2 separate regions of the Homo sapiens genome follow, and region 1 is linked to region 2. The links come from fine-mapping of genetic effects on gene expression. A gene starts in region 2. The other region holds a variant in brackets. All regions are shown on one strand. Distances are between the middles of the regions.

The links.
Region 1: its variant is fine-mapped to the expression of FOLR3 in monocytes (Quach 2016, PIP 0.93).

What each region holds. Positions count from the first base shown.
Region 1 is chr11:72,155,141-72,167,684 of GRCh38, reverse strand. It overlaps FOLR1-AS1 (FOLR1 antisense RNA 1), which reads left to right. Exons shown (of 3, transcript NR_199595.1): 3 at 4,306-4,363. It also overlaps the pseudogene FOLR1P1. Among named protein-coding and RNA genes, the nearest start is that of FOLR3, 26 kb to the right of the region's middle. RefSeq lists an enhancer at 2,150-2,959. The variant TG/G (reference allele first, on the strand shown) is at 4,730.
Region 2 is chr11:72,127,804-72,139,936 of GRCh38, reverse strand. It overlaps FOLR3 (folate receptor gamma), which reads right to left and starts at 4,212. Exons shown (of 5, transcript NM_000804.4): 1 at 4,169-4,212; 2 at 3,817-3,990; 3 at 788-976; 4 at 455-590; 5 at 45-350. The coding sequence starts at 3,984. The coding sequence ends at 106. It also overlaps the pseudogene RPEP6. RefSeq lists an enhancer at 603-1,106.

The DNA.
Region 1 (12,544 bases), 28 kb before region 2:
GTCAGGAGTTCAAAACCAACCTGGTCAACATGGTAAAACCCCATCTCTACTAAAAAAAAAAAAATACAAAAATTAGCCGGGCATGGTGGCACATACCTGTAATCCCAGCTACTCAGGATGTTGGGGCAGGAGAATCGCTTGAATCCAGGAGGTGGAGGTTGCAGTGAGCCAAGATCTCACCACTGCATTCCAGCTTGGGCAACAGAGCAAGATCCTGTCTCAAAAAAAAATAAAGTTGGTTTGTAATAAGCTATAGGACTCTGACAGGTGCTCTCAAATACAGGTTTCTGATAACTTTGGAGACTGTGATATTGGAATAAAGGAAAATGTACAGGACTCATGAAGAGCTAAAATGTTCACGAATATCAAGCATAACAAGAACTGAATGGACTGAACTCAGAAAGCTGAAGCAACCTTTTTGACTTTTGCTTGGAATATTGCTGATCCTTGTTTTGTTTCTCAGAGTCAAGGAAAATTATTTTGAACTCTTTAAGGCCTTTAATACTAGAGTAAGCTACACTCCTGTGAACAAAATTTGAAGCATATTTTTCTCTCTCTCTGCCTGGCTTCTCCAGAATTTGGAAATTATCCGTGAGTATTCTTTTTTTTTTTTTTTTGAGGCAGACTCTTGCTCTGTCGCCAAGCTGGAGTGCAGTGGCATGATCTCGGCTCACTGCAACCTCCGCCTCCCAGGTTCAAGTGATTCTCCTGCCTCAGTTTCCCAAATAGCTGGGACTACAGGCACTTGCCACCACACCCAGCTAATTTTTTGTATTTTAAGTAGAGACAGGGTTTCACCATGTTGGCCAGGCTGGTCTCGAACTCCTGACCTCCGGTGATCCGCCCACCTCGGCCTCCCAAGGTGCTAGGATTACAGGTGTGAGCCACCACGCCTGGCCAAGAATGTCACTTTCTAACAGGTCTAGGAGCTCCAAATTTGTCATGGGACCTTAACACGAGAAGATCATCCAACTTACAGGTATTTGAGGATACAAATCCATGGCTGGGCTCAGTTTTAAAACGTTTTGTCTGAAATTCCTTGAAGAACAGAGTTCCATCAAAGCCAATCTAAAAGACTTATGTAGAAATAGTTATTCTTGCTGCACTTTATGCAAATAATCAGGCCAAGTATATGACTAAAGTCTATTTTGCAAACAACTCAATCCTACCATAATTTGCTTTTTTAACAAAAATGAGGACTGGAGAGAGAGAAATTATGTTTCAAAACACCATACATTTGTCAATAAATTCTAAAGTCATTAGTGTTTAAGTTTTTGCCTACATTTTTAGGCTAACACTCCTTGTTCCTGTGAACCAACCAGCAATCTCCAGCTGCAGCTCAGAAAGAAGGAGAGGATGGGTAATGTAAAAATCTGGATCAATATTTTAGTTCTGAGCAATTATCCTGCAAATCCTGCCAGGTGATGGGAATAAATAGGATGCCCATTAATCGGAGGTTTCCTTTTTTGGAAAGTAAGAGCTAACCAAAGCCAAGCACCATGCACCCAAATCCTAGCTTACATAACTATAGCCACCAATTATCTGGGCATGTCACAAGACATCTTTTTCTCTCCCTTGTTGGAGGAGGACTCAATTCTGCAGCTTCACCTTCCTTAGCATTTGGCTTATGATAAGGAGTCCATGCAGCCCTTCCTAGACACATATTTTTGTTTCAAATTCTATTCCAAGCTTTGAGTCAAAGCCCCAGGAAAGAAAACTGGATCTAAGGGATTCAGAGGCAGATGATAACAGGGGTTAAAAGGCACAGTGCAAGGCCGGGCACAGTGGCTCACACCTGTAATCCCAGCACTTTGGGAGGCCAAGGCGGGCAGATCATGAGGTCAGGAGATCGGGACCATCCTGGCAAACACGGTGAAACCCCGTCTCTACTAAATATACAAAAATTAGCCAGGCATGGTGGCATGCACCTGTAATCCTAGCTACTTGGGAGGTAGAGGCAGGAGAATCGCTTGAACTGGGAGGTGGAGGTTGCAGTGAGCTGAGATCATGCCACTGCACTCCAGACTGGGCGACAGAGCAAGACTCCATCTCGAAAAAAAAAATACAAAAATTAGCTGGGCATGGTGGTGCGTGCCTGTAATCCCAGCTACTCAGGAGGCTGAGGCAGGAGAATCACTTGAACCAGGGAGTCGGAGGTTGCAGTGAGCCGAGTTCACTCCACTGCACTTCAGCCTGGCAACAGAGCGAGACTCTGTCTCAAAAAAAAAAAAAAAAAAAAAAAAAAAAAAGGCACAGTGCGTGCAAGTGAGCATGGCTAATTCCTGCCAATCAAGCCAAGCCTCCCATTTCATGGATAAAGGTCATGCTAGTATCCATGGCATATGTAGGGGTGGGTTGCCCCTACACACCTGTGGGTGTTTCTCGTAAGGTGGGACGAGAGATTTGGAAAAGAAAAAGACACAGAGACAAAGTATAGAGAAAGAAATAAGGGGACCCTGGGAACCAGCGTTCAGCATATGGAGGATCCCGCCAGCCTCTGAGTTCCCTTAGTATTTATTGATCATCTGTGGGTGTTTCTCAAAGAGGGGGATGTGTCAGGGTCACAAGACAATTGTGGGGAGAGGGTCAGCAGACAAACACGTGAACAAAGGTCTTTGCATCATAGACAATGTAAAGGATTAAGTGCTGTGCTTTTAGATATGCATACACATAAACATCTCAATGCTTTACAAAGCAGTATTGCTGCCCGCAGGTCCCACCTCCAGCCCTAAGGCGGTTTTTCCCTATCTCAGTAGATGGAGCATACAATCGGGTTTTATACCGAGACATTCCATTGCCCAGGGACAGGCAGGAGACAGATGCCTTCCTCTTGTCTCAACTGCAAGAGGCATTCCTTCCTCTTTTACTAATCCTCCTCAGCACAGACCCTTTACGGGTGTCGGGCTGGGGGACGGTCAGGTCTTTCCCTTCCCACGAGGCCATATTTCAGACTATCACATGGGGAGAAACCTTGGACAATATCTGGTTTTCCTAGGCAGAGGTCCCTGCGGCCTTCCGCAGTTTTTGTGTCCCTGGGTACTTGAGATTAGGGAGTGGTGATGACTCTTAAGGAGCATGCTGCCCTCAAGCATCTGTTTAACAAAGCACATCTTGCACCGCCCTTAATCCATTCAACTCTGAGTTGACACAGCACATGTTTCAGAGAGCACAGGGTTGGGGGTAAGGTTATAGATTAACAGAATCTCAAGGCAGAAGAATTTTTCTTAGTACATAACAAAATGGAGTCTCCTATGTCTACTTCTTTCTACACAGACAGAGTAACAATCTGATCTCTCTTGCTTTTCCCCACAGCATAAATGAGGTCTAGGAAACTCCAAGACTACTGACTGTAGGGGGTATAGAAACATAGGTAAGAGCGGATAATTCCTATTCTCTCTTTTTTTTTCCCCGAGATGGAGTCTTACTCTGTTGCCCAGGCTGGAGTGCAGTGGTGTGATCTTGGCTCACTGCAACCTTTGCCTCCTGGGACCAAGTGATTCTCCTGCCTCAGCCTCCCGAGTAGCTGGGACTACAGGCATGCACCACCACACCCAGCTAAGTTTTGTATTTTTAGTAGAGACGGGGTTTCACCATGTTGGCCAGGCTGGTCTCAAACTCCTGAAATCATGATCTGCCCACCTCGGCCTCCCAAGGTGCTGGGTTGTACAGGCGTGAGCCACTGAGTCTGGCTGATAATTCCTATTCTCTAGGTACTCCCTGCTTCATGGGTGCAAGCTGCTGTGGCACCCATGGCAGCACCTGCCAAGGTCACCAGGACTTGGGTATGCAAGGACAGAAGAGGGAAAGAGGACGCTCTTCCTTCTCTCCCTCATGTACCCCTGGTATCTGCTAGAAAGAGATAGGAGACAGGGATGCCTGCTCCCCTCTTTCTAGATGGGTAGCCATTCATCTTCACTCTGTACCCCTTTTGAATGCATGCTGAACCCCTGGGACTCCTTTAAAAAGCACCTTTTTTTCCTTTCTTCTCCACTGTCTTCTCTTCACTAATAGGTAATTGTGTCTTTGTACTATAGGACACTCCCCTCAGATGCATCCTCCAAACTGGAAAGAGTTAATTTCCCAAACCTTCAGCTGGTTGGCTTAGGATTGGGCTCAGAGGAAGGGAACCCACAAGCATGACATGCTGGCAAAAGGGTAAAGTTTTTTTTACCAGTCGGGCTTTTGGTTTCCCTCTCCCTGTGCAAACTGGTAAAAGGCCTAGGGATTTTAAGCTGTCCTTACCCTCCCTTGTTTCGTTTTAACACATGTTTTCTAATAACCTGGTTTTTCTCCTCTTGCCTTCAGGCCATCAAACTCCAAATGGTCGTGCAACCGGAGCCTCGGAAGATGGCGCCTTCTGCCGGGAACCCTTAGATAGGCTTCTGAGGGAGCTCTGACTGCCGTTTCCCAAAACACCGCTCCCTGTTAGCAGGAAGCAGTTTAGATCGGTCTTCGTCCTCACCCCTATCCTTGTTCTAACAGTAGTTTGATGTACTTCTTGAGAGGGGGGAATGAGACAGCCAAGTGTAAAGGGGTCCCCAGAGAACCTCTGACAAACCCGCACACTGGGAGGAATGTGCACTGGGGTGGAGCCTCTGGAAGTTCGTGCTGAGGAGCCTGGCCCCTCCTCTTCCAGGGTGGAACCTGGGATTCAACCTGAGAGGTGGGAAGCGTGTACTAGCAGGACTCTCACTCTGCCGAGGGTCCCCGTTTCCCCGCTTTTTTTTTT[TG/G]CCCAATAAATTCCATTTTTCTCACCCTTCAAAGTGTCTGCAAGCCTAATATTTCATGGCCAGGTGACAAGGACCCTGTCTTTGGCTGAACTGAGGAGAAACTCCTACAACATTACCATCCAGCAATTCCTATTTTTTTTTTTTTTTTTTTTTGAGACAGGGTCTCACTCTATCAACCCAGGCTGGACTGCAGTGGCACAGTCATAGCCCACTGCAGCCTCTACCTCCTGAGCTAAAGAGATCCTCCCATCTCAGCTTCCTGCATAGCTAGGACTACAGGCGTGGACCACCACACTGGGCTAAATTTTTTGTATTTTTATGTAGAGACGGGGTTTCACCATGTTGCCCAAGCTGTTCTAGAATCCCTGGCTCAAGTGATCTACCTGCCTTGGCCTCCCAAAGTGCTGGAATTACAGGTATGAGCCACCATGCTTGGCTTCCAACCAATATTTTAAAGTTCATGATGGGAATGGAGTTTGTCTCAGATGATAGATTTTTATGGAGCCACATGCCAATTTCCTTAGAATACTTTCCCTCATGGATACACCCCACAGAAACTCAGAATCATCCCCTCAATTCTTATCCCCCCTCATGCCCATTTACAATTAATCCCTGTTGTCACTTCCAGCCCCAGGCAACTACTAATCTACTTTCTGCCTCTATAAATTTGCCTTCCCTGCACATTTCATGTAAGTGAAATCATGCCACATGAAGCCTCTTAGGTCTGGCTTCTTTCACTTAACATAATGTTTTTGACGCTCATCCACGACATAGCATGTGTCATCACGTTTCATTGCTGCACAGTCTTCTATTGTATGGATTCACCACATTTTGTCTATCTACTCACCAGCTGCTAAAAATTTAGGTTATTGCCAGCTTGGGGCTATTATATATAATGATACATAATATGATATATCATATTTACATACATAAATGATACATCATATTTACATACATAAATATGATTATTATTAATATTCATATTTAAGTTTTGTTATGTTTGTTTTCGTTTCTCCTGAGTAGACACCTGGGAGTGGAATTTTGGGTTGTATGGCAGTTTTACATTTAACTTTTTGAGAAACTGCCACACTGTTTTCCGAAGGGCTGTACCATTTTACATCCCCACCAGCACTGTGTGAGGGTTCCCATTTCTCCACATCCTTGCCAATGCTTGTTATTGCCTATCATTATTATTATTGCCATTCTAGTAGGTATAAAACCGTCTATCACTATGGTTTTAGTTTCCATTTTTCTAATGATTAATAATGTTGAGCATCTTTTCGTGTAACTATTCATAATTTGTGTACCTTCTTTAATGACATATTTGTTCATTTCTTTTGCCCATTATTTGATTGGGTTGTCTGCCTTCTTGTTACTGAGTTGTAAGTGTTCTTTGTATTTTATGGATACAGATCCTTTATCAGATGTGTTTGCAAATATTTCCTTCCAGTCTGTTGCTTGTTTTTTAATTTTCTTAAGGGTGTCTTTTAAAGTGCAAGAGTTTTGAATTTTGTTAATATCCAATTATTAGCTTTTGCATTGATCAACTATGCTTTCGGTTCAAAAAAGAAATCAGTGGGCTGGCAGAGGTGTCTCACGCCTCTAATCCCAGCACTTTAGGAGGTCAAGGTGGGTGAATGAATCACTTGGGCGCAGCAGTTCAAGACCAGCTTGGGCAACATGGCAAAACCCCATCTCTACAAAAAAAATACAAAACATTTGCCCAGCATGGTGGCATGTGCCTGTAGTCCCAGCTACTTGGGAGGCTAAAGTTGAGGGATCAATTGAGCTCAGGAGGTCAAGACTGCAGTGAGCCATGACTGTGCCACTGCACTCCAGCCTGAGCAACAGAAAGAGACCCTGTCTCAAAAAATAAAAATAATAAATAGAAATAAATGAAGGGCGAAAAGGCATCAATTGGCCTTGTTTACAAGACTAGCCAGGGCGGTCATCAGTGGATTGCTCCACTTTTCAGGTTGATGTAGTTATTTGCATATGTATAGAGAGTTGGTCCTCCTTCTTACTAGGATCTAACCAAAAAATTAAATTTGTAACTATGACCATGCCAGAAACAGAAATCTACGAGAAAATAATGAAGTCTTTTTACTCATGATTAGGTCTGTTGCAAACCTTGTGATTCCCCTCTCCTTGCAAGTACATGATAGGATTATGTTTTCCTGGCTTTCTTGAATTTAGGCATGCTCATGACTTGATTTGGCCAATGAAATAAGTGATGGGTGGAAATTTGAAGAGCCTTATGGAATTTGCCAAGTTCCCTCTTCCTGTCTCATGGAAGATGGAGCCTCCATCAGCGTGGGTTCTTGAGTGAGAAGCAGAACCCCCTGGCTGCTAATGTAGTCCAGGAATGAGAAATAAACAGAATCCCCCTGATAACCCACATTCAGCATTGTAGCTTGAGCAAGAAATAAACATGACTTGTGGCCAGATGCAGTGACTCATGCCTGTAATCCCAGCATTTTGGGAGGATCACTCCAGCGCAGGAGTTTGAGAACAACCTGGGTAAAATAGTGAGACCCTGTCTCTACTATTACATATATAATACATGTTTTATATTATATGTATTAGCTGAATGTGGAGGCTCACACCTGTAGACCCAGCTACTCAGGAGGCTGAGGTAGGAGGATTGCTTGAGCCCAGTAGTTTGAGACCAGCCTGGACAACATTGCAAGATTTCCTCTCTACAAAAAATTGAAAAATTAGCCAGGTGTGGTGGCACATGCTTGTAGTCCCAAGTATTTGGGATGCTGAGGTGGGAGGATCACTTGAGCCCACGAGGCAGACGTTGCAGTGAGCTGAGATCATGCCACTCCATTCCAACCTGGGTGAGAGAGTGAGACCCTGTCTCAAAAAAAGAAAAATGCCTGGGCTTGGCTCTAAATTGGAGCTATAGTGAATAATAAAATCGAGAGCTACAAATGTCTCCTACCTTAGAAGAATACTTAAGTATCAGGCTAGTTCATAGCAAGCATCAGAGCTGGGAACTAGCCCAGTCTAACTGGCTTCAATCAATAAGAAATGGGAAACAAAACAGCCACATTCCCATTCATACCCAAATAATTCTCAAGATACATGTGTGGTGTCTGGTTTATTCAAAGTGGCTGTCAGAGACAAGACCATAGAAGAGGAACCAAATAGTTGGGAGCTGTGGGGCTAAACAGGGCAGGGATGTCCAAGTATCAGAAGGTAAAAGGAGGTCAGCTGAGCAGCCACAGCAGCATTAGGGCCAGGTTGAGCAGGAGAGGCCAGGCTGCCCAGGGCCCAGCCCCACTCAGAGCTGCAGCATAGAACCTTGCCACCTCCTCATTGGGGTTGCCCTGGGCCAGGTCGAACCACATCTGGATGCAGCGGCTGCTCCCTCGGTTGTAGTTGCTGACCCTGTAGGAGTGAGTCCAGATTTCACTGCACAGAGCAGTGGGTGTGAGAAAGTAGAGATGGAAAGGTAGTCAGGCAGCTGCCACCTGGCACTTGTTAGACCCTGTAGGGAAGAGGGAAGACCTTTAGCCACTGGGCCCCAAAGGGTCTCTGATTCTGCCAGCCCTACAACCCCAAAATGTCACACACCTGTTCCACACCCACACACCTTCACTTCCAAATCCCTCCTTTCCTGCCCACCCCAGCCCTCACCTGAGGTCCAGTTCCAGCCCTTGTGCCCATTGCTCTTGCAGGTGTAGGAGGTGCGACAATCTTCCCACCATTGCTCACAGTCCTCTTTGCACAGGGGCACATTCAGCACCCACTCTTTGCGCCAGCTCTGATCCACCTGGGAGATTTTGGTAGAAAAGAAGGGCTCAGGCTCAAGAATCCCAGGAACCCAGCCCTGAATAGAACTGGAGCTGGGGTTGCTGCCTGCAGAGACGCCTGGAAAATTCAGCTCCTCTGCTAGCTCTTGGATGCCAGGAAGCCATGCGTACCTGCTGGATCCAGGGCCCCAAGTTGGGGGGTCACTCGTAAAGGCAGGTGTCCTGGATAAAGTGCCGTTTGCAGGCAGGTACCATCTCTCCACAGTGGTTCCAGTTGAATCCATATAGATGGGAATATTCTTATGGGCTTCCTGGGTGGTGCTGGTAAAGCTCAGGCATTCTTTCTCCAGAGACTACACTGGATGCGGGAAGACACAGGACTAAGTCCACAGCCAGCACAGCCAGAATATTCCACACCCAGCCTCTCCCCTTTCAATCCTTAATCCCCAACCCAGTGGAAGTCATCCAGGAAAGTCCTTGCTGTTGGTAAACTCTTTGTGGGAGAGGGCTGTCAGAGACTGTGGAAGCCCGGAAGACAGCTCCTGTCTGGAGGTGCAGTCATTACAAAATTCGTTAATTCAGCTTTTATAGAGATCCTACATACTCTTACCCAGGCACTTTTCTAGTAACTGGGGTTACAAAAATGAGCACCTCAATGGATCACTGCTTTTGAAAACAATCAGGGGAGAAGGATGTCTCATACATTTTAGGGAAGCATGAGACATCAATCAAATGCATTTAAGGAATACATTGGCCAGGCACGGTGGCTCACGCCTGTAATCCCAGCACTTTGGGAGGCCAAGGCAGGCTGATCTTGAGGTCAGGAGTTTGAGACCAGCCTGGCCAACATAGTGAAACCCTGTCTCTACTAAAAATACAAAAAATTAGCTGGACGTGGTGACAGGCACCTGTAATCCTAGCTACTCAGGAGGCTGAGGTAGGAGAATTGCTTCAACCCAGGAGGCGGAGGTTGCAGCGAGCCGAGATCACACCACTGCACTCCAGCACGGGCGGCAGAGGGAGACTCCATCTAAAAAAAAAAAAAAAAATCATTGGTTTGGTCCAGGAAGGTGGGACAATTCAAAGTGGGGTGGCAGGGCTTTCAGGCTATACGTAAATTTAAACATTTTATGGTTGACAATTGGTTGAGTTTGTCTAAAGACCTGGGGTTGATAGAAAAGAAATGTTAAGATAAAAGACTGTGGAGACCAAGGTTCTTTTGAAGTCTTATAGTGGCTGCCCTTAGAAACAACAGATGACAAGTGTTTCCTATTCAGATCTATAAAAGGTGCTACACTTAGTTAATCTCTTTATGATTGGAAGGGCCTGGTAGAAAAAGATCCAGCTATGTTAATAGAGATTCTTTACAGATGAAAATTTTCCCCCACAAAGGACAGTAGCAGGGCCATTTCAAGATATGGCAAAGAAACATGTTTTGAGGTAAAAATATTAAAATATTTTGCTTTTCTTCCTTGTCTCGTCATGTTATGCCAGAGTCAGGTTGGAAAGTAAGTCATGATATATAGGGTTAAATAAAACCCATCTGATGAGAATTTATGATTTGTAGGGCATGACTCCCCAGACCCCTTAGATAGGAATTTTGGCAAGATAAAAAAAAATCATTGGATTTAGTCCTCGTTGAGGTGATAACCATTCGGAGGTGAGAAAGTAAGTTAAATTGTAACCCCAGAAGAGTTCCGATTACATAAACACTCAATACATACTTATTGAATGAATGAAAGCCCACGGCCTAGAATTTGGTATAAAGCTTGAGAAAAGAAAAATAGCTCAGAGCAGTCTCATGATGTGAGACATGCCCAATTTATCAGGCCCAGAAAGGCATGAGTATGGAACTTCAGTCACACCCTCCCCACCCATGCCCAGAGACAATTGTTCCAAGGCGTTTTGTCCCTGACTAGCTGCCTCACCCGTTATCTGTTCCTGGAATTTGTGATACAAAAAACAATGTATAGCCAATGAATTGCTTATGTTATTTTATTTTAAATTCTTGATAAACAACTTAGGAACTATTCTGTTTCCTTAAAAACTCACTTGTAACTGCTGTGAATCGAAGTGTATATTCAGGACAACTTGAATCTATGCTTCTGTGTAGCTATCCTCAAGCTTTCTGGATCTCGTTACTTAAGGCTGACAAGCTAAACATTAAAATGTGCACTTAAAAAATATATAAAAGCCCAGGCACAGTGGTTTACACCTATAATCCCAGTACTTTGGAGGCCAAGGTGGGAGGATCACTTGAGTGCAGGAGTTTGAGGTCAACTGGGACAACATAGTGAGACCTCATGTCTAAAAAGAGATAAAAATAAAAAAAAATAAAAATATAAAAAATAAAAGAATAAGTTAAAGTCAGAGCTGCTCAAGGTATACAGGTTATTTACCTCTTGTTAGTCTGCACTTGGCAGCTACAGGCTCACTGATTCAAAACAAGTGCAAACAGGGCAGTGACTGCTATCTGCTAATGGAGTCAAAACGAATATAAATAGAAATCCATATTACAAATTACTTTTCCTCTGTTTCTTCTTTAGTTATATTTGAATATGGATTTTTAAAATAACTGTTTAGCTAAGTTCAGGATATTAAAGGGGTTGTAGCCAAATAATTGTTATAGGCAGACCTCATGTCCAGTGGGATTGAGAGACACAGACTGAAGGTTTGCTAGATGCATGAACCAAGATGCTTCAGGCCGGATGTGGTGGCTCACATTTGTAATCCCAGCACTTTGGGAGGCCAAGGTGGAAGGATCGCTTGAGCCCAGGATTTGGAGACCAGCCTGGGCAACATAACAAGACCTCTCTCAAAGAAAAAAAAAATGCTTCACACCCAGCCTCATAACTGAGAGACTCTCCTTTCTTGAGCTGTTTAGGGCTGGCAGAAAAGAAGCCACTATGAACAGTGTGCAGTTTCTTCTTTCAGATCTATGGAGGAGTCATTCCCAGTCTAAATCCCTAAATCAAGCAACCCCAGGATGGGTCTCTCCAACTTCATTTCCCAGGCTCTCCTCTGGGCCTGCTTCCTTATTTGTGTAATGCGGAAACTCAACAACCAAGAAAGTGAGTTGTTGGCATTGTACCGACATTTGACACACAGTGTCTGTGAAATAAGTAGTCACATATCATATTAATACAAACTGAAGGGCTCCTCTGGTGGGTCTGTCAGAGGCGTTTCAACCAAAGCAACCCCATCTTGAATAGGGGCTGGGTAAAATGAAGCTGAAGCCTACTGGGCTGCATTCCCAGGAGGTGTGGCATTCCAAGTGACAGGATGAGCTAGGAGGTGAGCACAAGATAACAGGTCACAAAGACCTTGCTGATAAAACAGCCTGTGGTAAAGAAGCCAGCCCAAACCCACCAAAACCAAGATGGCGACCAAAGTGACCTCTGGTCATCCTCATCACTCATTATATGCTAATTATAATGTATTAGCATGCTAAAAGACACTCCCACCAGTGCCGTGATTACAGATGCCATGGCAACATCAGGAAGTTACCCTAAATGGTCTAAAAAGGAGAGGAACCCTCAGTTACGGGAATTGGCCACCCCTTCCTTGGAAAACTCATTAATAATCCACCCCTTCTTTAGCATATAATCAAGAAGTAACAATAAGTATCCTTAGTGGAGCAGCTCAAGCCACTGCCCTGCCTATGGAGTAGCCATTCTGTATTCCTTTACCTCCTTAATAAGCTTGCTTTCACTTTACTCTATGGACTCACCCCAAATTCTTTCTTATACAAGATCCAAGAACCTTCTCTTGGGGTCTGGATCTGGATCCCTTTCTGGTAACATCTTCCTGTCGAACCCTGAGGAGACACCCTACCCAAAGGAAATAGACTGCAGCACCAATTGGCTATCTAGGGTAAGTGGCGGGGTACCCAGGTAAAGGATGGAATTGGGTTAGAGGCTCAACTTAGGGGAGTTAAAGTCTCTCCTAAGACAGAGTGGGTTAAAGGCCCCTCTTAATAAAAGGCAAGGACACTTGACTGAACTTTGGTTTGAGGCCCAACTCAGGAGTGTTAGAGTCCCTTCTAAGATTTAG
Region 2 (12,133 bases):
TGTGTCCCTCCAACCCACTCGTCCCGAAATTACAAGACACAAGACACATGTGGATTTGTCTATTAGAATAGGTTGTTGGAAGAACCCCAGAGGACCCTTCTTGGATCAGGAATCAATAATCCCACGAGACGGGGCCCCAGCATTCATGGCCGCAGCATAGAACTTGGCCACCTCCTCATTGGGGTTGCCCTGGGCTGAGTCAAACCACATCTGGATGCAGCGGCCGCTCCCTCGACTATAGTTGCTGACCTTGAAGGAGTGGCTCCAGAGGCCTTCACAAAGGGCGGCTGGAGTGGGGAAGTAGGACTCAAAGGTGCTGCAGAGGGCCCCGGCCGGACACTCATTAATCCCTGAGGGAGGAGAACGTAAGACCCTTAGCTTCTGGGCCAGACCGCACCCCTCCCAACCCCAAAGCCCCACTCCCACTCCTCATCTTATCTCCTCAGGTCCTCACCTGAGGTCCAATTCCAGCCTTTGTGCCAGTTGCTTTTGCAGGTGTAGGAGGTGCGACAGTCCTCCCACCAGCGCTCACAGTCCTCTTTGCACAGGGGCACGTTCAGAATGCGCTCTTTGCGCCAGCTCTGGTTGACCTGAGTGGGGAGGAGACAGAATACTCCTGTCAGCCACGTATCTCAGCAGCTTTACCCTTGAAGGGGACCAGAGCTGTGGGAGGGGGCAGGGCGTCCACCACCCTCAGACCCGAATTCCTGGACCAAGCCCTCCCTGCCAGCAACTGGCAGGCTCCGCCCTCTGCTGAGGTTAATGTTTGTGGGAACAGCACTCATACCTGCCGGATCCAGGGCCCCAGGTTGGGTGAGCACTCATAGAGACAGCTGTCCTGGATAAAGTGGCGCTTGCAGGTGGGTTCCATCTTACCACAGTGATCCCAGTTAAAGTTGTACAGGCGGGAGGTGTCCTTGTGCAGCTCCTGGCTGGTGCTGGCCGTGCAGCAGGCATTCTTCTTCCAGGGACTGCACTGGGTGGGGAAGACACAGGACTAAGTCTCTCCCCACCACAGCCATCTCCTCCATATTCTGGCTCCTCTGCCCCAGGTAGGTCATCCAGAGGAACACTTCCTGGGGAGGGCCCTTGAGGAGCTCCCACCTGGGGACGGAGGCAATTACAATATTGGTGCTTTCCGCCCTATTTATTCATTTATTTATTTGAGACAGGGTCTTGCTCTGTTGACCAGGCTGGAGCGCAGTGGTGTGATCATAGCTCACTGCAGCCTCAACATCCTGGGCTCAAATAATCCTCCCACCTCAGCCTCCCGAGGAGCTGGAATTCAGGCACATGCCACCATGCCTGGCTAATATAAAGTATTTTTGTAGAGATGGGGTCTCACTATGTTGCCTAGGCTGGTCTCAAACTCCTTGGCTCATGTCAGCTTCCCAAAATACTAAGATTAGAGGCGTGAGCCACCATGCCTGCTTAATTTTGGCTTTTAACAGAGGGTAATCCACGGGATATAGGAGATGAGGGAGAGCCACTGTCTGAGAGAGTAATTATTAGTAGTACAGCTCTTAACGGTTTAAAAAGTGATCTCATGTTATTAAACTAACTTTTTTTTGAGACAGAGTTTCGCTCCTGTTGCCCAGACTGGAGTGCAGTGGCGTGATCTTGGCTCACTGCAACCTCCACCTCCCGGGTTCAAGCAATTCTCCTGCCTCAGCCTCCCAAGTAGCTGGGATTACAGGCACGTGCCACCATGCCCAGCTAATTTTGTATTTTTAGTAGAGACGGGGGTTCACCATGTTTGCCAGGCTGGTCTCGAACTCCTGACCTCAGGTGATCCACCCTCCTTGGCCTCCCAAAGTGTTGGGATTACAGGCGTGAGTCACCGCGTTCGGCCTATTTCATGTTATTCAGCTTATTTATATTATTCATTTTGCATCCAGCCAATATTAACTGAGTGCTGATTATACATCAGGCACTGTGCTAGGTCCTAGGAACACCACAGTGAAGAAAACAAATAACACCTCTACCCTCAGGGAGGGTATGGTTTTAGTGGGTGGGTGGGCTGTGTGTAGAAGGGAGACAAAGAACACTCTAGGCATAGAAAACCATAGGTGCAAAGTCCCTGAGGCTTTTGCGCTTTATCCTCTCAACAACCCAGTACGAATCCTTACCCCCATTTTTACAGAGTTTAAGTAAGCTACACCCATGGTAAACAGTGAGGTTAAGATTTAAGGAGGCGGGCGGATCACCTGAGGTTAGAAGTTCGAGACCAGCCTGACCAACACAGAGAAACCCTGTCTCTACTAAAAATACCAAAAAATTAGCCAGGCACAGTGGTAGGCGCCTGTAATCCCAGCTACTCAGGAGGCAGAGGCAGGAGAATCACTTGAACCCAGGAGGCAGAGGTTGCAGTGAGCCAAGATCATGCCATTGCATTCCAGCCTGGGCAACAAGAGCGAAACTCTGCCTCAAATTAAAAAAAAAAAAAATTATAACTGAGGACAGGGAGGAGAGGAACCTGGCCCAGGTTGTGGGGGAGGGTGGAGGTCAAGGGGCTGGTCTGGCTCTCCCAGGGTCTGGAGGTCCAGGTGGGGAGACTCTAGATAGATCCTGAGAGTGGTGGAGAACGAAGGAGCTATAGCCTGCACGTGGGTCTGAACCTAGACTTGACTAAATGTGGAAAAGGCAATCCTAGAAAGGTAAATACAAGGCAGGTAAGACAAGCAGAAATGGTGGAGTTTTTTCTTGGGAAGTCACTCTAGGCCAGGACTCAGAAAACCTGAGAAATCATGAATCAATTGCATAAAATTTCTGGGCTGAACCCTTGCACCTAGGGTCAAGTGATGGCAGAGGCGTGACAGGCCTGAGCACCCAGGAGAAACAATAGGGAAATCCATGGGAGGGGAGCCAGACCTACCCACCTCCCACACCCTGGCCCACGCCCAGTGCCGGCTGACACAGAACATGCTTCCCTGCCAGCCCGACTTCACACTTGCTTTTCCTTGGATGTTCCAACTCTTGGTCTTCCTGCAAGACCCCTTGCACATCATGGGTCTTAGGGTTTGGCAGACATGGGTCCTGCCTGTCAGGGTCAAGGGTTGTTGCCTCCAAAAGAGTTACTGAGTACAATGAGAAGAACTCCCTTGCTATAGTAAGGGCTCAACAAATATCATCACTCTCATATAGCTCATGGCCCTGAGAATGATAGTCATCTGTCTCTCTCAAAGGTCTACATCCACACCATTTCCTGGCAAGGAGGATGTGCTCTAGAAGGTTCTGAAAAGCAAATGAAGTGGTGGGCACAGAGTTTCCATTTCAGTTTTGGAGAATGAAAGAGGTCAGGAGATGGATGGTGGTGATGGTTGCACAACCACATGAGCATACCTAATGCCACTGAACCGTACAGTTAAAAATGGCTAAAGTGGAAAATGTATGTTATGTATTTGTTTTTTTTTTTTAACCCCGATTTAAAAATAAGCAAATGGAATGTTGGGAGTGACTCAGATGTCATGGGGCTTCCAGGCTGTCCTGTCTTCGCTTTAACCCACAGATTGTGTCCACGCCACAGTCTCTCCCTAGGCACATCCCCAGCCCTCTGGGAATGTGAAACCTTGTAGGGAGCAGGCCAGGAGACCAGAGGAATGAAATACAAGCACACTCCTGAGCCTGGAGTTCAAATTGGAGCTCATATTCCCCAAGCTGCCTCAGTGGCCTTACCTGTGGCATGGTGGCCCTGGCCGCCCCTCCCCTTCCTTGTCAGCAGCGGCACCCTTGGTTCTGACCACACTGGACCTGCCATTGCTCGTGCCATCACCCTCTGACCTGTGTGCATGCTGTCCTACACCAGGCTGCCCTCACCTGGCCATACAGCTCGTCCTCGGGGCTGGGCTGTGTCTTGTGGTGCTTGGCGTTCATGCAGACATTGAGCAGGTCCGTCCTGGCCCGCGCACTCCTGGGCTGGGCACTCCCCGCAGCAGTCACCAAAGCCAGAAGCAGCAGCTGCATCATCTGCCAGGCCATGTCCATCTATTCCTGCCAGAGAGCCACAGTCAGAGGTAGACAAGGCCTGAGACAGGGGCAACAGCCATGTGATTGTGTACTCTCTCCCTCCCAGGCCCAGATCTCTGCTGTCCCCACCCTGCATCCCCTACAGGGCAGCTGAGCCAAGAAATGCGCTGCGTGTAGAGGTGAGAGGGAGCCCTTCCCCTACCTGGAGGCAGGACCTCCACCAACAGCGCTGTAGGTCCAGGCTCTGACACCAGCTTGCTCTGTGACCTTGTAGGGAGCCACCGCCCTTGTGGACTTCCCCTCTTGGATTTCTCCAGTGTTTTATGCAATTCTTTTCAAATTTGCACAAGGAGGAACCACAGGTGGTGGCCTGCTGATGCAGGAGTGAGACTCTAGACAGCCTCAGGCTTCTGCTTCCTCAGCCTGTCCTCCTACCCCATGGCAGCTGAGGTTTAGATGCCCAGGGAAGCTGAGATGGGGACAGCAAGGGCCATGGAGCTGTCAGCTATTGTTCATGGTCCCGGAGCAGATGCTGCGGGAGGCAAGGAGGTGGGGGCAATCACACCTCACCCTTCACCCCTTCTGGGTCTTGGGAAATTACCTAGGCAGAGGCAGGCTCAGAGGTTGGGGGAGGCCAACAGGTCAGCGGCAAACGGAGGAGGGGGCTGAGCGAGAACAGTGGGCGCTATCTCGCCTCCCACCTCTCATCCCCACTTTTCCCTCTGTCCTGTTGCAGGGCCTTACCTCCATTCTCAGCCCACCTGGGAAGGTGGAGTCTCTCCCACCTCCCCACCTACTTTATAACCCCATCCTGCCTGCTTGGTTAGACCCTCTGTTCGGGAAGGTGCACAAGGCTTTGTCTAGGAGACAGCTCAATTGTCTTTCAATAAGGACCCAGTTAAATTATGGTACATCTACCCAGTGGAATTTAATGTGGTAACAAAGAAAGAGAAAGCTCCTGATGTACAAATATGGAAAAATCTTCAAGTGCATTGTTAAGTGGAAAAAGAAAGGTGCAGAAAAATGCTATGTAAAAAATAATAATAATAAATTCTCTGTAAAAAAGGAGTAAGAATGTCTGTGTTGACTGGGCGTGGTGGCTCACGCCTGTAATCCCAGCACTGTGGGAGGCCGAGGCAGGCGGATCACTTGAGGTCAGGAGTTCGACATCAGCCTGGTCAATATGATAAAACCCCATCTGTACTAAAAATACAAAAATTAGCTGGGTGTGGTGGCACATGCCTGTAATCCCAGCTACTCAGGAGGCTGAGACAGGAGAATCACTTGAACCCGGGAGGAGTTTGCAGTGAGCCAAGATCACGCCACTGCACTCCAGCCTGGATAACAGAACGTGACTCTGTCATTAAAAAAGAAAAGAATATCTGTGTTTGCAGGTGAAAATTCTGTGGCAAGGTATGAAAAGAAATTAATAACATGGTCACCTGGCAGTAGAGAACAGGATTAGGCTTGAGACTTTTCTCTGTAAACCTTTCCACATTGTTTTGATTTTTGGACCATGTGACTATAAATCTTATTTAAATACATATAGGTATGTGTGTATACATACATAAATATACCAAATATGAAGTGAAAATACTAAGACACAGAATGACCTCTCTGACTTGATAATATGTATGTAAATTTTGATAACACTAGAATGTATACAACAGTACCTTTAAGTTAAGGATACTACACATGTGCTTGCAAAAGTATGAACATGAAGCCACCAAGAGTTCTGGTCCCTGGACATACATCCAGTAAATTCGATGCAGTTACACCATATATATCCCATTTCTGTGCACAAATGGTAGCATACTGTTCTGTACTTTGCTTTTTTGGGTAGTTTCACTATAAATTTATTCTTTTGACAAAAAAACAAAAACCTCATGAACTCAAGTTATCCACAGTTGCACACTTGAGTATTACTGTACATCTGATAACATAACTAAAATTATTTCTTTATGCCTCGTAGGGTCTAAACTTAAAACTATTTCATTAGCCGATATAAAAAAGTTAGTGGGCTGGGTGTGGTGGCTTACACCTGTAATCCCAGCGTTTTGGGAGGTTGAGGTGGATGGATCACTTGATCCCAGGAGTTTGAGACCACTTGGGCAACATAGGAAAACTTCATCTGCACACAAAAATAGAAAAATTAGCCACGTATGGTGGTGCGAGCTTGTAGTTTCAGCCATTTGGGAGGGTGAGCTGGGAGGATTGCTTGAGCCCTGGAGGTCGAGGCTGCAGTGAGCTGTGATGGCACCACTGTACTGTCAGAGTGAGACCCTGTCTCAGCAAAAAAAGAAGAAGGAAAAGGAGAAGGAGAAGAAGAAGAAAGAAGAAGAAGAAGAAGAAGAGGAAGAAGAAGAAGAAGAAGAAGAAGAAGAAGAAGAAGAAGAAGAAGAAGGAGAAGAAGAAGAAGAAGAAATAAGGAAACAAAGAAAGTTAGGAAAGAGAACTTCATGTTTTCAAGTTAAAAGTGCCTAATGCTTGGTTTGTATTTCTCCAACACTCTTGGAGGCAGTAGAACTGCTACTAACCTGGGAAGACGACCGGCACTGCCCCTGTGTATTGCTTATGTAGTGTGAAGTGATGTTTTCCCATTATGATGTTGGGAACATTTCCAATACTGTCATCATTTACTCAGCTAGTAGAGAGCCTCTCCTGAGGCAGAGCCTGTGTTTTCAGTCTGACCTCAGTATCTGGTCCTGCTACAGGTGAGTCTGAGGTGACAAGACCAGTGTCTAGTTATGAAGCCCTTGCCTCCCCAGGGCTCCATTATGGATGAGTCCTGCACCATAGTCAGCAGCCCTCTGCCCTCCCTCCATTGCACCCACCTATGACTCTTCTCTTCTTTTCAATGCCCTCCCCCAACAACCTCTGCCTGTGACTTTGAATGTGTTGTGGGGGTCTTTGCAGAAGAATCGCCCACCTGAGTTTTGGCCAAATTCCTGACTCACAACATCTTGGAATATAATAAAATAGTTACTATTTCAAGCAACTATGTGTATTTGATTTTTAAACTTTTTGTTTTGAAATAATTTTAGATTTGCAGAAAAACTGCAAAACATCGTCAAAAGATTTCCCGTATGTTTTTATGCAACTTCCCCAAATATTGGCATCTTATGTAACCAAAGCCCAGTTCTTAAAAAAATCAGGAAATTAATATTGAGGCAATACTGTTAACTAATCTACAAGCTTTATGCCCTTTACACCAGTTTCCCCCCCAATGTCCTTTCTCTGGCCCAGGATTCAGTCCATGATTCCAGGTTGCATGTAGTTGTCATGTCCCCTTAGTCTCCCTCCAATCTGTGACAGTTCCTCAATGTCTTTGTCTTTTATGACCTTGACACTTTTGGAGAATTACTGTTCAGTTATTTTGCAGAATGTCCCTCAATTTGGGTTTGTCTATATTTTCCTGTAATTAGCTTGAGCTTATGCATTTTGGCAAGAAAATTAGAGAAGAGAGGTGCTTTTGTCAGTGCATCATATCAAGAGGTACATGATGAGGGTTGCTGCATCTTATTGCTGGTGATTATTGGGTTAAGGAGATTTCCTTACTATATAATTATTAGTTTCCCTTTGTTAGTAATCCTACCTTGTAGGGAGACACTCTGAGACTATGTGAATATCCTTTTCATCCACTTAGTTTAACATTGTCTGCAGCAATACACCACAAAATTATGGAATGATTTGTTATGCAGCAACAGACAACTAGTAAACCCATGAGAGTTAGTATTGTGTTTCTTAAACTCTGAGGAAACAATTTGGCTTATAACCTTAGTTTAGCCACACAGCAGTTACTCTTTCTACAACAAAATTCCCAGGAAAAACAGAGTACTTATCATATTAATCTTTAAATTAAATCACTTATAAAAGTGAGTAGTTATAATAGTCAAACTTACTTTACCCTCTGTGAACATTCTGCATGATGGATTTGAGACAGTGGACTGAATAATTGCTCAGGAAATCAGCACTACCTCAGTTACTTTCTGATGGGTCCTCATAGTACAATAAACAGGAGATTTCATAGACAGAAATACGGGCTCTTCAAGGCTTCTTCAATCATGAGAATGTTTCTGAGAAGCTTCTGAGCAAATACTTCTATGGAAGCTGATCACAGATCTGAGGTCTTTGCACTTCATAATTATTCTGTCAATCACAGTCATATTAATTCCTCCTCTGCACATGTATCAATAGCATTACGCCCACAGGGTCCAAAAAGAAAGAGGTATGTCCTCAACCAACGAATTTCTGATATTACAGGCTTCATAAAATTCATGCCCTCCAATCCCAGGCTCCACTATCGTGGCCAAGGCCAGGTCTGGCTGAGTTGCCAATGGTGCTAAAGACTCTACTAAAGATTCAGGTGAATGCCAAGGCCAGCCTTCATCCAAGTGACCAGAATATCTTTAATGAATGTCTGGTTTTCAGTAGCCTCTAGATAAAAGGCACACTGATTTGCTACACCTACAACTATAGCCGTTGCCTTTTTGCTCGTTGTTTTGACCTGAAACTTAATCATGGGCGTGGCCTCTCTTTAAGGCTTTCTATCTCAGGTACCAAAGATGATGGCAAGAACAAAGTGTCTGTCCACTACATCAAAGATCAGATGGTTATCCGAGTCCAGCATCTAGGTGCACTGAGCCCCAGGGAGTCCAGGCAACTGTTGAGGGTAGATGGGCCAATCTTTATTTTACCTTATTTTTTATTTTTAGGAGACAGGGTCTCACTCTGTCACCCCAGCTGGAGTGCAGTGGCACCATCATGGCTCACTGCAGCCTCAACCTCCCTGAGTATCTGGGACTACAGGCACGCACCACCACGCCCAGCTAATTTTTGTATTTTTGTAGAGAGGAGGTTTCGCCATGTTGCCCAGGCTGGTCTTCAACTCTTGGGCTCAAACAATCCTCCAACCTAGGCCTCCCAAAATACTGGGACTACAGGGGTGAGCCACCACGCCCGGCCAAGATGGGCCAATCATGAGTCTTGCCCAAATTCTTGGGCAAAATCTCACAAAATCTTGAAGTATAATTAAACTCACAAAATCTTGAAGTATAAGTAAATAAGTATTGTGTTTTTGTTTTGTTTTGTTTTGAGACAGAGTCTTGCTCTGTCCCCCAGGCTGGAGTGCAGTGGTGTGATCTCAGCTCACTGCAGCCTCTGCCTTCCGGTTCCAGTGATTCTCCTGCCTCATCCTCCCAGGTAGCTGGGATTATAGGCACATGCCACTATGCCAGGCTAATTTCTGTAGTTTCAGTAGAGGTGGGGATTCACCATGTTGGCCAGGCTGGTCTCGAACTCCCGACCTCAGGTTATCGGCCCACTTCAGCCTCCCAAATTGCTAGGATTACAGGCATGAGCCACTGCGCCCAGCCTAATTGGTATTGTTTTAAGACATCAAGTTTATTTGATTTTCTTAACTTAGTGTTTTGAGATAATTTTAGACTTAACAGAAAAATTGCAAAAGTAGTAAAGAGGTTTCCCATATGCTTTCATCCAGTTTCCCCAAATGTTGGCATCTGACAAAACCAAAGCCCAATTACTTAAAAAATCAGGAAATTAACATTAAGGGAATACTTTTAACTAATCTACAAACTTTATTCTTTTTCATCAGTATCCCCACCAATGTTCTTTCTCTGGATGCCATGGCACCAGTCCTCAGGAAGAAGAATAACCCCTAATTCCCTTGCATTTTGATTTCTTTTCTTTTTTCTTTTTCTTTTTGACAGGGTCTCTCTCTGTCACCCAGGCTGGAGTGCAGTGGCATAATCATAGGTCATAGCAGCCTTGACGTCTTGGGCTCAAGTGATCCTCCCACCTCAGCCTCCCAAAGTGCTAGAATTACAGGCATGAGCCACTGTGCCCAGCTCACTTTGCTTGCTTTACTTAACAGAATGTACTATAGATGGTCCCTTATCTGTGTACATAGATCTATATGATTCTATTTCATTATTCTATTGAATTTAAGTGGCTTCTCATATTTCACTGTTATAGTCAATGCTGTAGGGAATGTCCTTGTATAGCCGTCCACCTTTGTATATAATAACATATCTAGTGGAGGGGGAATGTAAAATGGTCCAGATGCTGTGAAAAAAAATTAAACATAGAATTACCATATGATCCAGCAATTCCTCTTGTGCGCACACACCCAAAAGAATTGAAAGCAGGGATGCAAACAGCTATCTGTGCAGTCATATTCACAGCAGCATTAATTCACGATAGCTAAAAGTTGAAAGCAACCCAAGTGTCCACGGATGGATAAATGGATAAACAAAATGTTGTTTCTACAACTGGTCACAGTGAAAGAGTTTTAAGCAGGGGAATGTCACAGTTCAATTGGCAGTCTTGGTGTGTTCAGATGGGATTACGTGTAGGCTGGAATTGGGCAAGGTAGACCAGTTAGAAAGCTGTTTCACAAGTCCAGGCCTGGGATGATGGTGCCTTGACCAGGAGGGTAGAAGTGGGGATTCATTCAAAAACTAAGCTCAGAATTAGTTATTGGGCATCTACCATGTGCTAGGCTGTTCTGGGTTCTAGAGCTACAGAAGTGACCAAGAAAAAGTCCCTACTGTCATAGAGCTGACATTCTAGTTTGGGGGTGGGAGGTTGTTAGAGAGAGACGACAGAAAACAAATAAAGATGATGATTGTGCTCTGAAGAAAACTGAAGCAGGCTAAGGGGACAGAGAGTGATGAAGCAGGGGCTACTATCTTCTACAGGAAAGATCTAGGAGGTGATGCTTGGGCTGATACCATAATGAGGTAAGAAGGGAGTCATGTGAACATGGAGGAAGGAGTGCTCCAGACAGAGGGACCCGTAGGTCCAAAGGCCCTGAAGCAAAAATGTACTCAGTGCATTTCAGGAACAAACAGCGAGGAGGAGGCCAGTGTGGCCAGCAGTGAGCTGGGAGCGGCAGGTGTGGGGTCCAGGCCAGATCTTCAGGGCCCCGTGGTTCAGACTCAGCAAAGATGGGGGATTTTACTCTGAATGAAATGGAAACTTTATTTGCTTTTTCCAGTTCAGCATCTGATCTGACTCTAGGGACAAGGGAAAGCAAACAATTGACACAGATGTCTATGTGAATGGCCCAGCCTTAAGGCAACCATGACTTGAACCAGGGCTATGTGGTGGCAGTGGACGTGGTGAAAAGGGAGGAGTAATGTCATGTCTTTTGAAGGATGTTTTGATAGGATTTGCTGAGATGGAGGACATGAGAGAAAGGGAGGAATTAGGATGACTCCAGAGTGTGTTGGTCTGAGCAATTAGAGAGGAGTGCTTGGCTATTTACTGAGATGAGGAAGGCTGAGAGTGGAATAAGGATGGAGTGAGAAGGGGAAAGAATTGTGAACATGTGGACAGAAGGGTAAAAGTTTTCTGCCAGTCGGGCCTCTGGCCTCTCTCTCCCTGTGCAAAATGTTGAAAGAAATGGTAAAGTTCAAAAGCCAGAAATATTCGTGGCTTGGCATGGCTAAAGTTGGGTACTAAGGGATTTAAAAGGGTTATCTTAAAGAGTGCTCAGCTTAATTAAAAGTGGATATCCAAGCTATAGGTATATTTAAAAGGCCTTTGTGTTTTTTTCTTCATGGATCTTGTTTCTCTGCAAAACAATTTTTTCTCAGTCAACTGAATTATTTTTCCCCAATTTGTCTTGTCACTCTTAACGCATGCATGAGAGGCCCTAAGATAACTTCTGAGAGCATAAGACACCTTGGGAAAAACAGAGAAGTCACCACGGATCCCATTTTGGAAAAAAAAAAAAAAACTCTGTTTTTCTTATAGAACCCCAGGAATTAAAAGCAGATAGACCCCTTTCAAAATCTGTTTTTGTCTTCCAGCTATGCCTGTTTATTAGGCCCTGGAAACTGCATGCTTTCCTAGCTCTGCTTCTTGAAATGCTCCACCCTGAGGCCAATAATCCAATTAGGAGATTGGCAAATGAAAAATCTTACAACTACTGAATCTTCTGTCTGTGTAATCACATATGTGTTATTTGTGTGTGATGTTTATATAAAAAAAGAGCTCTAATTTGCTTAAAGAAAATAAGTGCTTAGATCAAATATTTTTTGAAGGAAAAACAAAAGCTGTATTGCCTTTTAGTTCATGTGACTTTAATCTTTGAGAAAGAAAAACAATTTTGAAGATAATTGGTAAAATACAAATGTTATCA